2 linked regions of the Homo sapiens genome follow. The protein of the gene in region 2 purifies or fractionates together with the protein of the main gene of each other region. This does not show direct contact. Each region holds a gene or a part of one and is shown on either strand. Other genes may lie near its edges.

The links.
Region 1: the proteins of MOK (region 2) and NAA50 purify together in Homo sapiens (affinity purification with mass spectrometry; 3 studies listed by BioGRID and IntAct, with this or other methods). This does not show direct contact.

Annotation. Positions count from the first base shown.
Region 1 is NC_000003.12:113,739,536-113,743,453, forward strand, and holds part of NAA50 (N-alpha-acetyltransferase 50), read right to left. Parts: intron 1-3,918. UniProt on the Homo sapiens protein: N-alpha-acetyltransferase that acetylates the N-terminus of proteins that retain their initiating methionine. Has a broad substrate specificity: able to acetylate the initiator methionine of most peptides, except for those with a proline in second position.
Region 2 is NC_000014.9:102,298,478-102,302,395, reverse strand, and holds part of MOK (MAPK/MAK/MRK overlapping kinase), read left to right. Parts: intron 1-3,918. UniProt on the Homo sapiens protein: Able to phosphorylate several exogenous substrates and to undergo autophosphorylation. Negatively regulates cilium length in a cAMP and mTORC1 signaling-dependent manner.

The sequences.
Region 1 (3,918 bases), on a different chromosome or scaffold from region 2:
GGTAAGAAGCCTCTGGAGTTGGAGAACAAGTTTCTGACAGAGGCAGAATATAGCTTGCACTAGCTCAAGAAAGATGAATACTTCCAATTATCTCTTCCCTACCCTTTCACAGCAGACCAAGTGACTGAATGGCAACACTTTAACCAAAAAACCAGATTCGCCTCAAAATCCTTCAACACAGAGGTATAAACAGCCATAAACTTTCTGTTGGCCCACAAGTTGAAACATTTAGAAATATCTACCATCTGGGATGGGAAGTAGATTCTAAGGGAAAAGATCCTGTTTTATACAACTTTGGCTTTTTTATGGGTTTAGCACAGGACCGTCCAACAGATATACAAGTGACATACAAAATTTTAAAATGTTTAATATCTTGGGAAGACTTCCTTGATATAACAAAAAAAAGTTTAGTATTCACATTTACAAGGGGAAGAAATCATTTCAACATGTAATCAAAATAAAACTTATTTTACCTTAAAAACTTTTTCATTCAAGTTTAGTATCCACATTTACAAGAGGGAGAAATCATTTAAACATGTAGTCAAAATAAAACTTATTTTCCCTTAGAAGTTTTTTTTCATTCAAGTTTAGCATCCACATTTACAAGGGGAAGAAATCATTTCAACATGTAGTCAAAATAAAACTTATTTTACCTTAAAAATTTTTTTTATTCCAAGTCTTTAAAATCCAGTTTACTACACTTACAGCATGGCCCAATTCAACTACTCATTTTCCTTAGAAATATTTGATCTGTATTTACATTTCACAAAATCTGCAGTAGATCCACATATCTAAGTTGTTTCAAACATAAAAACGGACCAATAACTGTGAGTTTTTTCTTTTTGAGACAGGGTCTCCCTCTGTCACCCAGGCTAGAGTGCAGTGACATTATCATGCCTCGATGCAGTGCAGCTTCAACCTCCTAAGCTCAAGTGATTTTCCCAACTTGACTTCCCAAGTAGCTGGGACTACAGGCACACACCACCATACCCCAGCTAATTATGATTACTATTTTTTTGTAGAGATGAGGTCTCACTATGTTATAGCCCAGGCTGGTCTTGAACTCCTGGGCTCAAGTGATCCTCCTGCTTTGGCTTCCCAAAGTGTCGGGATTACGAGTGTGAGCCACAGTACCCAGCTGAGAATCCGAGCTTTCACACTTTAAAATTTAAAATTTAGTTCTGTCATACAAGGCACATTTTTTCTTTTTTTTTTTTTAAAGGTCACTTTTAATTGAGACCCAATGACAAAAGGTGGACAATAATCAATTTGGTAAAACAAATTAACAGTACCCTTTAAAGCTTCTGTTTCTATGTTTACTAATGGCTTCCCCACATAGGCAATATCATCTAGACTATGCTAGAGTTTTCAATGACTCCATCATAAGGACTAGCGATGGTAACAGAAGCTTTATCACTTTGAACTTTACCGATGTTATCAAACTGAGACACTGTATCTCCTTCTTTTACATAACATTAACAGTTACTTTTCTAATCCCTTCTTCAGTGTCTGAGAATCTGAACTGAACAAGCTGTCCACATACAGCATTAATTGTTTTCAGAAAGTTATGTGGATGACTATACTTGAATGAAGGATAATCAAAGAAACACACATAATTTGGCTTCAAAACATGAACATTACTACATGTTGGAAAACAGTGAAACAAATCAGCTGCCCAGCATTCCTGCTCCAGGTCCTCAGTACACAGACTGCAGACATCTTACCCGGGAAATGGCAACTGTGCCACAGACCACAAGGTACATTTCAACTGCTCAATCGCCAACTGTAGCTAGTCACGACTGTACTAGACAGAACAATAAAATTGTGCCATTAAGTTAGGCATTGAATAGACTTAAATATAGCTCTCACGTTCACGATGGGAAGAATGTGTCTACTGGTTACTACTGGTATTCTATTGGTTACTGCAGGCTGCATTTAAAAAAAGATGAAGGCCAATCATTTGAATAATTGAGAAAGAGTATCGCTTCAGATATCACACAGCTGAAAGCCATAAGCAATACCTGGAAGAAAAAATTAGGAGTCCCAGTAACACTTCCCACTCTACTGATCACATGTGCAATAATATTCACACAACAGAAGTAAGGATCTTTGAAATTATGATAAACAGGGAATATATCTTGATTCAATAAGATGAGTGCTTGGACTACTAAGTGACTTTAAAAAATCTTTTCCAACTCAGAAAGTATTGATTATTCTTTGTTTAGAGCTTTCCTAAGAGTTGTCTGCAATTTCAGGAAGAAATTACACCACTAATGGCAACACAACATGAGTCAACAATGCACACAACTGTATAGGCAGCAGACATACTTTCTAAATTACACGATGATTCTATTTACAGATAGATGCAAACACTTGATCTTATGCTTTATGGCATAGTTGTGCCACATCATTAAATACTGAAATAAATTTTATTATAAATTACTTCCCTTTTATTTTTCTTTTATATTAGAGAGAACAGTACATTGATTTTTTAAAAAAACTTATGGTGTAAGGTTATATTTTATATGAATTCATCTCAACACAGCAAGGGCACATTACAAAGTATTTGTTAAAATTCACTATCTCAATCAACAAACCACAAATTGTTTCACAGAAGGAAGAAGTATAAACTGTAGGTTTATAAAAGGTGTCAAATGCTACGTCAGCCTGACTAGCTTTTGGTTTTGCTGAAAAACAAAACAGCAATAAACCTTTAAAAAAAGTTTTGTTTTGTTTTGTTTTTTAAGACCAGTTTTCGCTCTGTTGCCCAGGCTGAAATATAGTGACAAGATCATGGCTCTCTGCAGCCTTGAACTCCTGGGCTCAAGTGATCCTCCTGCCTCAGCCTCCCAAGTAGCTGGAACTACAGACTTGCACCAGCATGCCTGGCTTTTTTTTTTTTTTTTTTGAGACAGAGTCTCACTCTGTCGCCCAGGCAGGAATGCAGTGGCACGATCTCAGCTCACTACAACCTCCACCTGCCAGGTTCAGGTGATTCTCCTGGCTGCTTTATTGTTTGTAGAGACAAGGTCTCACTATGCTGAGATGCAAAAAGCATTCCTTTTGCCCCTTCCCAGTCCATATGCTGTCAGAGGTAACCACTGTTCGGAGTTTTTAAAGTTTTGTTTCTGACTGCAGAATCTTACATTTTAATTTTATTTGGTAAAATGGCTCCCTTTACTATTCCAATTAGTAGTCAACATTGTTCCATATTTATATTACTGCTACCTACTTTCCCATCTTAGTCACGTATTCACATTTTGTTAAAGACATTTTTTATTAGAACTAATTTGCACCTCTTTACTACAATTGAAGGCTAAATGATTTGGTTTTATTATACTTTCCATTACACTGCCTAATTACATTGCCACCTCAGTCATGGTTATCTGTGGCATACCTTCTTGCTTGAAATCGCCTTCCCTAGAGAAGAACAGATAAAAATATCACCCACAAATTCAAACTACAATGTCCCTGGTTCATAAAAACAGCCAACCTCAAAAGTAAGCAACATTTCCTAGTATATCTCAAACTTCTACATGTGCATATAAATTACATTCAGTAGTTAATAACCGGAAATTTATCTTCTATGGAGGAAAGACATGCCAATACAATGGAAAGTCCTACTGCTACTACTAATAAAAATACTCATGGTAAAAATATGAAGAAAAACCAGCTAAGTTTTAAGTTTCAATATGATAGGCAACATAGGCAACAGTGTACAATTTTAAATATTTGACTGGCTTCGTGTTGGGACTTCCGCAGTTTCCAATTTTAGATATTTCAATTTACTGTTTACTTACCTCAATATACAATAGAATACTTAGCAAATAAAATTTCATACAAAAGCCACATAACCAGGACCACTGTTTCGTTTTTACAGGCCATTCCAAATTAAGAGTCAGGACTTTAAAATCGACC
Region 2 (3,918 bases):
TATATATAAAATTTACATTTGTGGGCCGGGTGCAGTGGCTCACGCCTGTAATCCCAGCACTTTGAGAGGCTGAGGTGGGTGGATCACTTGAGGTCAGGAGTTCGAGACCAGCCTGGTCAACATGGTGAAACCCCGTCTCTACTAAAAATACAAAAATTAGTCAGGCGTGGTGGCAGGTGCCTGTAATCCCAGCTACTTGGGAGGCTGAGGCAGGGGAATCGCTTGAACCTGGGAGGGGGGCGTTGCAGTGAGCTGAGATCGCACTACTGCACTCCAGCCTGGGCAACAGAGCAAAAAAAAAAAAAAAAGTATATGTGTGTATACATATAAAATTTACATTTATGGGGCGGGTGCAGTGGCTCACGCCTGTAATCCCAGCACTTCGGGACGCCGAGGTTGGCTGATCACTTGAGGTCAGGAGTTCGAGACCAGCCTGGCCAATGTGGTGAAACCCCATCTCAACCAAAAAATACAAGAAAAAAAAAATCAAAACAAAACAAAATACACAAAAAATGTACATTTATGATTTACTTCTTGTAAACTTTTGTTTTTAAAGTATATTTAGTATTGTTTGGTATGTTCTTTTAGATGGTCATTTTGGTAGTTTTCGGTTACTTGGTTTAGTGGTGACATCTTTATTCTCCCTTTCTTCCTTCTACCTTAAAATGTACTCTAAGAATTATTGTAACCTTTTATCCCCCTGGTTTACATCCTGATCATTAAATAAATGATTTAAAAATAGTTAACAATGGAGAGAATATTCCAGAACTGGAAATCACAGAGACAGAGTTATAGAAGTAGAATGATCAGGAAAAGTGAGTAATGGTGAAATTGGATCCATAGCTTGGGGTCAGAGTGGGGCTGGGAATGCTAGATTATTACAGGGGTCTGTCAGGATTTTCTAGGTATATTTTTGTACTTGTTTTCTAGGTGATGCCCTGTGTTTAGGGGTGTGTTATTCTGTGGAGTATTCCTGTCCTTCTTTTTATTTGGCATCGTTTGCAACAGTAGAGAGCAAAGAGTGACACAGTGCAGTTGATAAGAGCGTGGGCTTTGGAACCGGGTGGGCATGGCAGCTTCAGGCATGTTACTTTTTCTTATACTGCTTTTCTTCATTGTTCCGGTTATCTATTGCTGCGTAACAGATCACTTCAATTTTGTGGCTTAAAGGAACAACAGTCCTTCTTGTGGTTCTTCAGGTTGCCTGGATTCAACTAGGCAGGTCTTACTGGAAGTCTCTCATGCACTCAGATGGTGGCTGGAGCTGAAGTCATCTTAAAAGTTTGTTTTTTATTTTGAGATGGAGTCTCACTCTGTTGGCCAGGCTGGAATGAGTACAGTGGCACAATCTTGGCTCACTGCAACCTCTGCCTCCTGGGTTCAAGCGATTCTCCTGTCTCAGCCTCCTGAGTAGCTGGGATTTTAGGCGCACCACCACACCTGGCTAATTTTTATATTTTGAGTAGAGACGGGGTTTCACCATGTTGTTCAGGCTGGTCAAGAACTCCTGACCTCAGGTGATCCACCTGCCTTGGCCTTCCAAAATGCTGAGATTACAGGTGTGAGCCAGTGTGCCCAGCCCACATTCATCTTTAAACAGGGATGATAATACCAATCACATAGCATTGTTTCAAAGATTAAGTGAAATCATCTATATAAAGCTCATAGCACAGTGTCTGATACATGATAAATTGTGAATGAATTATTATTTGCTATTTCAGCAGATGGAAGGCAGGGATATAAAAAGGGAAAGAATGAAAACATCAGTCAGATCCTGACTTGGAAAAGTTTCCCCTTATCTAGTCTAGTTAAAGTACCACTCTTTTTTCCTGTCTGAACTTTCTTTTTTGTTTGAGATAGAGTCTGTTGCCCAGGCTGGAGTGCTGTGGTGTAGCCACAGCTCACGACAGCCTCCATCTCCTGGGCTCAGGCAATCCTCCCACCTCAGCCTCCTGAGTAGTTAGGACCACAGGCATGTGCCTCCTCGCCCAGCTAATTTTTTTTTTTTTTTGGTGGAGATGGGGTTTTGCTGTGTTGCCCAGCCCAGGCTTTTTTTTTTTTTTTTTTTTTTTGAGATAGAGTTTTGCCCTGTTGCCTAGGCTGGAGTCCAATGGCGCGATCTCGGCTCACTGCAACCTCCACCTCCCGGGTTCAAGTGATTCTTCTGCCTCAGCTTCCCAAATAGCTGGGATTACAGGTGCCTGCCAACATACCTGGCTAAGTTTTGTATTTTTAGTAGAGATCGGGTTTCACCATGCTGGCCAGGCTGGTCTCGAACTCCTGACCTCAGGCAATCTGCCCGCCTTGGCCTCCCAAAGTGCTGGGATTATATGCATGAGCCACTGTGCCCGGCTCCCCGGCTTAAGTTTTTAATTGTTTACTAGAGATGGGGGTCTCCCTATATTGCCCAGGCCGGTCTTGAACTCCTGGATTATAGGCATGAGCCACTGTGCCTGGTCCTGTCTCAACTTTTTAATGAATTATTCAAAACATACCTATAAAAAGAGAAAAGTGGCCAGGCATGGTGGCTCATGTCTGTAAACCCAGCACTTCGAGAGGCTGAGGCAAGAGATTGCTTAAATCCAGGAGTCTGAGACCAGCCTGGGCAACATGACGAGACTCTGTCTCTACTAAATTTAAAAATTGGCCAAGCATGGCAGTGCATGCCTGTGGTCTCAGGTACTCGGGAGGCTGAGGGAGGAGCATTGCTTGAACCCAGGAGTTTGAGGCTGTAGTGAGCTGGGATCACACCACTGCTCTCCAGCCTGGATGTCAAAGGAAGACCCTGTTTCAAAAAAATAAAACAAAAACCCAGAGAAGTTACACTCTGAAGACGGTAACAGTTTGCTATTGTATCAGAGAGAATTTTTCTTTTTTTTTTTGTAGGTAGTCTCACTCTGTTGCCCAGGCTGGAGTGCAGTGGTATGATCTTGGCTCGCTGCAACCTCTGCCTCCAGGGTTCAAGCAATTCTCATGCATCAGCCTCCCGAGTAGCTGGGATTTATAGGTGCAAACCACCACACCTGGTTAATTTTTGTAGTTTTAGTAAAGATGGGGTTTCACCATGTTGGCCAGGTTGGTCTCGAACTCCTGACCTCAGGTGATCTGCCCGCCTCGGCCTCCCAAAGTGCTGGGATTACAGGCGTGAGCCACTGCGTCCGGCCCAGAGAGAATTTTTAAAAGTATCTGTTGTAATTACAATGAGGTTTAAACTGTCTTTTTTTTTTTCCGCCATGGAAAGAGTCAAGTAATTTGTCTTTCTTAAATGCTGGTGTGTCCGCAGTTGGTGGGTTCTTGGTCTCACTGACTTCAAGAACTAAACCTCAGACCCTCACGGTGAGTGTTACAGTTCTTAAAAGCAGTGTGTCTGGAGTTTGTTCCTTCTGAAGTTCAGATGTGTTGAGAGTTTCTTCCTTCTGGTGGGTTCGTGGTCTCACTGGCTTCAGGAGTGAAGCTGCAGACCTTCGCGGTGAGTGTTATCGCTCTGAAGGCGGCGCATCTGGACTTGTTCATTCCTCCTGGTGGGTTCGTGGTCTTGCTGGCCTCAGGAGAGAAGCTACAGACCTTTGCAGTGAGTGTTGCAGCTCATAAAAGCAGCCTGGACCCAAAGAGTGAGTAGCAGCAAGATTTATTTTAAAGGGTGAAAGAACAAAGCTTCCACATTGTGGAAGGGGACTGGAGCATGTTGCCACTGCTGGCTTGGGCAGCCTGCTTTTATTCTCTTATCTGGCACCACCCACATCCTGCTGATTGGTCCATTTTACAGAGAGCCAATTGGTCTGTTTTACAGAGAGCTGATTGGTCCGTTTTGACAGGGTGCTGATTGGTGCGTTTACAATCCCTGAGCTAGACACAAAAGTTCTCCAAGTCCCCGTGAGATCAGCTAGACACAGAGCACTGATTGGTGCATTTGCAAAC